Linked DNA regions of Homo sapiens: region 1 is linked to region 2. The links come from fine-mapping of genetic effects on gene expression. A gene starts in region 2. The other region holds a variant in brackets. All regions are shown on one strand. Distances are between the middles of the regions.

What was found. PIP is the estimated chance that this variant, and not a neighbour inherited with it, causes the effect.
Region 1: its variant is fine-mapped to the expression of CAB39 in whole blood (INTERVAL, PIP above 0.99).

What each region holds. Positions count from the first base shown.
Region 1 is chr2:230,665,345-230,669,726 of GRCh38, forward strand. No RefSeq gene overlaps it. Among named protein-coding and RNA genes, the nearest start is that of LINC01907, 33 kb to the right of the region's middle. RefSeq lists enhancers at 1,074-1,939, 1,890-2,184, 2,154-2,633, 2,674-2,723, 2,744-2,823 and 2 more. The variant A/T (reference allele first, on the strand shown) is at 2,608.
Region 2 is chr2:230,711,149-230,715,530 of GRCh38, forward strand. CAB39 (calcium binding protein 39) reads left to right here and starts at 1,694. Exons shown (of 9, transcript NM_016289.4): 1 at 1,694-2,082. LOC124907996 (formin-like protein 16) reads right to left here and starts at 2,178. Exons shown (of 4, transcript XM_047446832.1): 1 at 931-2,178. The coding sequence starts at 2,178. The coding sequence ends at 1,420. RefSeq lists a silencer at 1,466-2,405.

The DNA of each region.
Region 1 (4,382 bases), 46 kb before region 2:
GCTGAGCAGCTTTCTTTTCTCCACACCACGTGTTGCCACCAGACAAAAGTGCTACAAGCTCCTGGAGGGAGGGACCAGGTCTATAGTTCACTGCCATATCCACAGTCCCTCATGTACTCCCTCAGTGCTTGCTGAGTGAGTGAGTGAATGAATGAATGAGCGAACCACAAGAATATTATTTGACCTCAAGAACACCGCAGGAACTGGCAGGGGGACCATGATCTTCCTGAACGCTCTGCATGAGATGACTTGGCAGATCCCACGGACTTGCCTTCTTAAAACCACCCTGGAGGCCGGGCACGGTGGCTCATGCCTGTAATCCTAGCACTTTGGGAGGCCGAGGTGGGCTGATCACGTGAAGTCAGGAGTTCAAAACCAGCCTGGCCAACATGGTGAAACCCCATCTCTACTAAAAATACAAAAAAAAATTTGCCTGCATGGTAGCGGGTGCCTGTAATCCCAGCTACTTGGGAGGCTGAGGAAGGAGAATTGCTTGAACCCTGGAGGCAGAGGTTGCAGTGAGCCAAGATTGCACCACTGCACTCCAGCCTGGGTGACAGAATGAGACTCCATCTCAAAAAAAAAAAAAAAAAAAAAAACCCACCCTGGAAACAGGGAGAGAATCAGAGCGAAAGCTTCCAGTTCAAACGCAGGTTGAGAATGAGGTTTGCAGAGCCAGCGGGCAGTGAGTGCTGACCGAGAAGACCCATGGCGGCCCACTGCAGTGGGGGCGGCGGCAGTGTGACCTTGTTGAAACTAGCCGCTCCAGTGACCCAAGGCTGGGGGAGATTTGGCTCTGCTACTTTCCAGCACTGTGAGCTTGGGAGCCTTACCTGCTCCGAGCTTCAGTTTCCTTACTTGTATAATGGGGATTAAATAACACACTTTTTTTTTTTTTGAGATGGAGTCTCACTCTGTTGCCCAGGCTGGAGTGCAGTGGCACTATCTTGGCACTATCTGCAACCTCCGACTCCCGGGTTCAAGCAATTCCCCCGCCTCAGCCTGCCCAGTAGCTAAGATTACAGACACACGCCACTACGCCCAGCTAATTTTTGCATTTTGGGTAGAGACGGGGTTTCACCATGTTGGCCAGGCTGGTCTCGAACTCCTGACCTCAAGTGATCCACCCACCTCGGCCTCCCAAAGTGCTGGAATTACAGGTGTGAGCAACCACGCCCAGCCCTAACACACTTTCTTTATTGCCCTTGAATCAACCGCATTCCAAGGCCAACGTCATTTGGAAAGGTTGACCTAGATTTCCTTTTCCATCTCCACTGGGACCTCCCCTTTCACCCACCGGAACCCAGGAGGCTCTGATGCCTTGAACACACAGAAGGGCTCCTAATCTTTTGTACATCAAAGTCGCCCCAGCTTCTTTGCTGCCCAAGCTCACTGGTGTGGTTTCCTAATGTCCCCGACAGTTTGGGAGATCTCTGCCAAGGCTGGCCACCTGGTACCAGCCCAGGTGCCCCACCTGTCTCCCACCCCCAGGTCTCTGGTCACCTCCTGGATACTGTGAGTACTGGAGAACTTGCTGCTTGGGGACACCAGCACTCTCTCCCCTGAGGGCTGGGGCATATGCTCTCCAGACCCACCTTTCTCCTTCCCTCTCAGGACCCCTGGAGTGATCTCATCAACATCTGGCTTAACTCATCAGGGGATTTTCTGCAAGTGAGAAGGCTAATGCCTCTGGGGCCAGGCAGGCCTGGTGAATGTATGACAAAACTGCAGGGCATGGTAGGAGCGTGTACTGGTTTTCTAGGGCGCCGTAATGAAGTACACACAAACTGGGTGGCTTAGAACAATGGAACTGTGTCGACTCACAGGTCTGGAAGCCAGAAGCCTGAAATCGAGGTGTTAGCAGCACCATGCTCCCTCCAAAAGCACTGGGAAGGATCCATTCCAGGCCTCTCCCTGAGTTTCTGGGGGTTGCTGGCCGTTTTTGGCATTCCTTGGCTTGGAGACACGTCACCCAGTCTCTGCCTTCAGCATGTGGTATCTTCCCTGTGTGTGTCTGTGTTCCCATTTCCCCTTTTTCGAGGACAGAAGTCAGATCAGGGGCCCACCCTACTCCAGTATGACCTCATCTTAACTCATTACATCTGCAATGACCCTCTTTCCAAATAAGGTCACATTCTGAGATACTGGCAGTTAGAACTTCAACATGCATATTTGAAGAGGGTGCAATTTAGCCCCTAACAGGGCTGACGAGCCCTAGAGGGTGAGCAAGTCCACTCCAGTTTACTGTTGCCCTGCAGGGCTCTGGGAGCCTGTCCAGGGTTTCCTGGGACAAGGTACTTTCTGTGCCTAAACTGGGTGAGTCCCAGGAAGCCAGCTTGGTTAGTCACCTCAAATGGGGCCCTATCTTCTTATGTTTCAAGAGAAGTCAGAAACTCTGACTTCACGTGAAATCTCCCAGTTTTTGAATGGGCATCTAATTTGACAAATTTTAAAATCCTGGGCCCCATCTGAGGGTGTCTAGCCTGCGAGTGGCCAGTGGTCACCCATTGCCTAGCATGGCAGGGCAAATTGTAAGACTCCAAAAACTGCAAATAACAGCAACTGTGGCCATGAGCTCAGGCTGGGCAACTTGTTCTGGGGCCCTGC[A/T]TCAGCCCCATCTCTTTGGAAGCCTTCCTGGGCCCCTACTACCCATGCTCAGCAATGCTTCTGGCTCCAGAAACTTCCAGCACTGTTTCAGATAGGGGGACTGGCATTTGCAAACTGTCTTGGAGTTGGTGACCCAGAAGGAGGGACCCCAGACTAGAGGAAGATGAGAAGGCAGAGAGTACCAGACAGTGCCATCTAGGGAGAAGAAACAAGTCATGAATATCTGATGTAGGGATGGGACGGACACTAAGTGGGAAAGGCCACCCTGCTGCCCAGCCCCCACCACCGCCAGCACCACCAGGCTGGCCATCTCTTTCCCACCTTCCCCACCACCATGCACGTGGTGCCATGCACCGCTGCTCCTCACCCACTCAGACCAGCTCCAGCACCTTTGGAGGTGAGATTAGCTTCTCACACAACTTCTAAGTCTTGATCATAGCACATGCTCTGCGGTTTTGCTGATGGTGACTAACGGAGGGAATTTCAGGCTAGATCAGAAAGGAAGGTGGAACAGGGTAAAGTGGGTGAGGATGAGGCTTTCTGGTTGCTCCTCCCCAGTGTCCAGGAAGTTGCCCATCCAAGCCTCTTTCCCCTGGTGGGGCTTGCCGTGCTGTGTCTCTGGTTTGCTGGCCTGGGCAGTGCCACACTGCCAGGCTTTGCAGATCTGGAAGGGGAAGGAACAAGCCAAAGAGGAAGTGGCATCAAGAAGAAGATGGGAAGGGCAGTCTCCCCCTTCCCTCTTGCCAGGCCTGCAGAATTGGGGAACCCGTATAAAAGACAACATCCCTGCTGGGAGCTGCACCCTCTGCCCGGCCCGGCCCCAGGTGCCCTGATCTGCCTGCCACGACCTGGGCAAAGCATGCTGTTCCTGCACATACTCGGGCTTTCTGAAACCTGAGAAGGCAAGGGGGGTGAGGGAGAGTCCCACACAGCCCAGGCCCAGCTGGTCAGGCTAATTTTAGGTTTTTCTCAGCCTGACTGAGGCCTACTAATCTCCACCATGCCAGAGAATGCACATGGAGCAGAGGCTGTCTTTACTCATGATGCCCCCTCATCCCTCCAAAAAGCTCCTTTTTCTGTCCAATTTCAATTTCTCTTTGACCTGCCCCAGGCCCACCCATCCCAGGAAATCTGCCCCGACCACCACCTCACAAAGAGAGCTCTCCCTTTCTCAGTGTGTGGGGTAACTGTGGTTGGAAACCACAGTACAGCCCTGTGTCCCCAGCCCTGGCACAGTGCTTAGCTCAAAATAAGCCCTTGGTAAGTGTGGGTGGAATGAATGAATGAGCGTTTTATTACACAGTGACAGCATGCTACATGCAGGTTAGGTCTAAAGTTAGCAAATAAGGTTAAAAGAGTTCAGAGTTTAAATTACCCTTGAAACTCCATCAGGAAGACAGCTTATTGGGATTGACATTAGATCTCCTCAAGAAGTCCAGTACAAATCCATTTCCTTTTGTTGAGGAGAGGGACCTGGACCGCTGGCCCAGCTCCCCAGCCCTTGGCCCAACACACGCACTTGCTCAGGAATTCCCGAGGTTTATGGGACATGCCTCCAAAAAAACATACATCTAGAACTCCTAGATGTAAGAGCCTTCCCATCGCCCATCAGCCTTCTCCAGGGACTCTGCCGCTGTTGTCATGACAGCCAGGACAGAGTCTAGTGGAGCCTCGGGAAGTCCGACAGGCTGAGAATGAAGTCAACCAGAGGCAGAGAGGGGCCCCCACACAGAGAGTGGAAATCAGAGGCCTTTGGTGAACAGCCAAAATGACCA
Region 2 (4,382 bases):
CAAGTAGCTGGGGTTATTTTTGTATTTGTAGTAGAGACGGGGTTTCAACATACTGGTCAGACTGGTCTCGAACTCCTGACCTCAGGTGATCCCCCTGCTTCGGCCTTCCAAAGTGCTGGGGTTACAGGTGCGAGCCACCACGCCCGGCCGGACAGTCTTATCTTTTGGCTGGCTGATTTCAACAGGCTTCTCGCTGGTCCCCCTGCTGAAACCCTCAGGGCTTTCAGTCTGGTCCTCATACCACAGCCACAGGGATCCTCCTGAAATGTCATTCCACGTCCTTTCTCTGCTCGCAACCCTTCAAATTGCTTCCCATCTCCTTGAGAGTAAAAACAGGAAGTCCTAACTTTGGTTGGTAGGGCCGCACTTCTTCCTCATCTCTTCCCCTATCTGGGGCCGCTTTCAAGCCAGCAGATTCTCGCCTCAGGGCCTTGGTCCTGCTATTCCCTCTGCCTTTCCATACAGAAAGCTCCCAGGCTCTCTCTCTCCAGGAAGCTGCTCCCTGAATGAACACTGTAAATAACAACACCCTGCTTTCTCTCCCCTCCTCACCCAGTGGTGTTTTTAACTGTCCAGTATTTGTTTTTTTGTTGTTGTTTTTTGTTTGTTTTGTTTTTGTTTTTTGGAGATAGTCTCGCTGCGTCGCCCAGGCTGGAGTGCAGTGGCGCGATCTCGGCTCACTGTAACCTCCGCCTCCCGGGTTCAAGCGATTCTCCTGCCTCAGCCTCCTAAGTACCTGGGAATACAGACGCCCGCCACCACGCCCGGCTAATTGTTTTTTGTATTTTTAGTAGAGATGGGGTTTCACGGTGTTGGCCAGGCTGGTCTTGAACTCCTGACCTCGTGATCCGCCCACCTCGGCCTCCCAAAGTGCTGGGATTACAGGCGTGAGCCACCGCGCCTGGCCCAATTGTCCAGTATTATACATACCTGTAGGTTTATTAGTCAATTATTTGTCAACTGTTTGTGCTAGGAGCATGGACTGTTTCGCTCACTGCCCCATCCCTGACGTACAGGAGGCGCTTAAAAAGTAGTTCAGTTACACATTAAAAACAAAGAAACAAAAATACACACATATGGCATTTGTATGTGCCAGGCTCCGTTGTCAGAGCTTTGCAATGCACTGTCCCGTTCATCCTCAGAAGCCCGTGGCTGGTACCACTATATTATTACACACTTTTTTTTTTAATGTGTGAGGAAATCCAGGCACAGGGACGTGAAACAGCCCATAGATAGCAAATGGTGGAGCAGGACTTAAATCCAGGTTGCTGATTTAAATAGGAATATTCCCATTAATCTGGAACGTTCTGGCACTTGTCCCCCTGGATGCTGTGTCCCCCTGGATGCTAAAATGAAGCGATCTGCTCCAAGAAAGTAAGAATCGGTCTGCACAAAGTGGGATCCCGGCCTCTCGCAGAATTAAGCTTGAAGAGTTGAGGAAGTGGTCGTTGAAAGTGGGCGTGCGATTCCCGCAGTAAGAGCGCTCAGGCGGAGGAGAAAGGGCTGAGCCCCGCCTTGGAAGCTGCGGCGGAGGAAGAGGAACTGCGGGGCTTGGCTTCTGCTTTTCTCTGCGGCCCCTCCCGCTCGGGCCTCGCGCCTACTTGCGGCGCCCTGAGTCCGCCGGCCGCTCGGGGGCGCCCGAGGCGGAAGGGGGCGTTGCGGCACCGCCCGACGTCGCGTCCTCGGCGGCTGCGCAGTGCGCACGTCAAAGCCGGGCTCGGGCCGCAAGCGGGGCGAGGGGTTCGGGGAGCGGCGCGGCCTGGGAGACACAGAGCCTTCAGGCGCCGGGGCGGGGGCACAGGCGAAGACTAAGGCGGCGCCGGGCCCCACAGCAGCAGCCGCAGCCCAAGCGAGCGCAGCAGCGCGGCGGCAGCCGCGGGAGCCCCTGGGCAGCCGTCCGCCCGCGCAGCCGCCGCCGCCGCGGGAGCCCGTCGCCGGGAGCAGGAGCGGGCGGAAGACAACGGAGGGGCCGAGCGTCCGAGCCACTCCGCGGGGACCGAACGAGCAGCCCGAAGCGGCGGCGGCCGAGGACGGGGACAGCGACGACGCGGAGGCAGAGAAGGGAACGCCCGGCCCAGCCCCGTGAGTGACCCCCGGCCGGCCCTGCTCGTGGTGCGGACGCCTGCCCGGCTTCCGCCTGCCCCGCTGGGCCCTCACCGGCCCCGGGGCTGCCTCCATTTTCCTGGGTGGCGGCGGCCCCGGCCCAGCTTGTCCCCGGAGCCCCCGGGAGCAGCCGGGCCCAGCCTGCCCTCTCCGCCCGGCTCGGCTCCGGTCCCTCGCTGAGACGCTCCCTTTGCCTTCGCCGGCGTGGGGCGCCCGGGGGCCTGCAGTCCAGGCGCTCCTGCCTCTCCCCCCGTGGTTCTCTGGCGGGGCTGGCGGCGCGTGGTGGTCCGGGCCGGAGTCGGGCGGGCGGGGAAGTGCGGGCCGGGTCAACTGTCACCGGCTGCACCCGGGCTTCAGCGCCTCGCTCCCGCCCCTGGTAAACTTCCTGTTGTCGGGAGGCAGATACCAGCTTTGTGACCAATTCAGGAAAATGCCTAACTGATTTCTGGTTAGGAATTGGGCGGTCGGAGCGTTCTGGAGTTCAATGGAACCACCCCAAGCGCAGACTGCGTGCAGGCGCCGTAGTCGGCCCGCACCGGAGGGATTCAAAGGTGAAGCGGGCCCCGGTCCCCTCCCCCGAGGAGCTTAGGCTCTGGTGTGAGAGATAAGACGAGAACACAAATAACTGCGATACCGGGAAGGAGGTGATAAGTCCTGTGAAAGAACGACGGAGTGCTAGAACGGCACCCGGAAAAACCGAACCGATCACTTCTGCCTCGCAGAAACCTGGAAGGCTTCCTGGGCGGGGGATGCTGAGCAGAGTCTTGAAGGCCTGATGGGATTTAGGAGAGGAGGATTGCAGAAGAGGTGTGTGGAAGGGGTAGCAAAAGCGAGAAGACAAAGCCTAGAAATCATGGATAATTCCGTTTGTTGGCATGGTGCAGGGGGCGGGGGGTATTGGGCTAAAGAGGTATTTTGGGGCCAGATCCTTGAATGCTGTAGAGGAGCTATTTGAGCAGCATTCTAAGAGAAACTTAGAGCTCATTTCTCAGTGACTCATGAGCCCGGAAATGTAGGCTAGGGGATATTAAAGGCGCTCTTGTGAAAGGAGAGAGGAGGAGGCCCAGTCAGGAGTTGACATTCTGTGCCTTGAATGTAATGCAGTTTCAGATCGATTTTGACAGCTTCCCAGATAATCAAGTAAATCCATGCCCAGGCTAAGCAAAGTACCTTTGCAGAAAGCTTCATTAGATATCAGGCTCTTAAGAGGTAATGGAAAGGTGTCTATAAAATAAGCTCATCTGCACACAGAAGGTGTTTCTATTTGTGCGTTCGCTACAGTGCATAAAAACTTCTTGCACTTTGTATTAGGCGTATGTACTTTGGAATTACTAAGCTAAACCTACATTCTTTGAGGTGGCATTTGTGTAAAATAACATAAATTGATGATTTTTAAAAAATGGTTAGTAATATTCTGCTGTAGAAAGCCAGACGTAGACCTTTTACAGAAAGGTAAAACTTTGTTTTTATATTTTATTTTATTATGAAATCTTTATAGTAGAGCCAGAAGTGAAAGTGTTTAGCTTTATTTTGTAGTTTGTTCAAATTGTTAGGAAGTAATTAGCAGCTGTATTCGAAATCTAGAATATACGATCTGTGAAAGCAGCTTAGGGCCTAAGTTTTGTAAGCTTGCACTTGTTTGCGTGTATGACAAGTGAATGCCACCTTTTTGCAGTTTAAAAATTTTCTGCTTTTCAAAATAATACATGATCTTTGTCAAAGCTTCCAAAATTCAGGGAGTGCTAGAAAATCTTTAAAACATTTTCTATAATCTTACCACTTAGATTTGGTTACTGCTAACATTTTTGCGTATTTTCTTTCCAGTCTTTTTCTGTGTATTTTTTCTTTGCATAATGAAATATATTGTATGCATATGTATACACACACACATCTCTTATTAAGCTTTTCTTGTCATTAAATATCTTCATATAAAAAATTTTTACTCAACAATGGAAGTCTTCTAAGCATGTTATGTTTTCCTGACAAGGTTGTATTATTTACCTCAGATGAAATGCAGTAGTTAGGCTTAATAACTACTAGTGTGGACAGAACTTTTTCTGAAAGTTTCTTGTTTGAAGTATGTTTCTTTCTCTGTAAGACTTGGATCCTCTTGCTTGTTGAATAAAGTTTTTCTTGGCAGGATGTGTGTTGTCATGAGGTGTGGAAGAGGAAGAAAGCACACAGATCTCTGCTATAGGAGTGAATGGACTTTTAAAGGGATGTTGTCAAAAGATTACTGTCATGGCTGGTATACCATCCCCCACAGACGGCGATGCAGT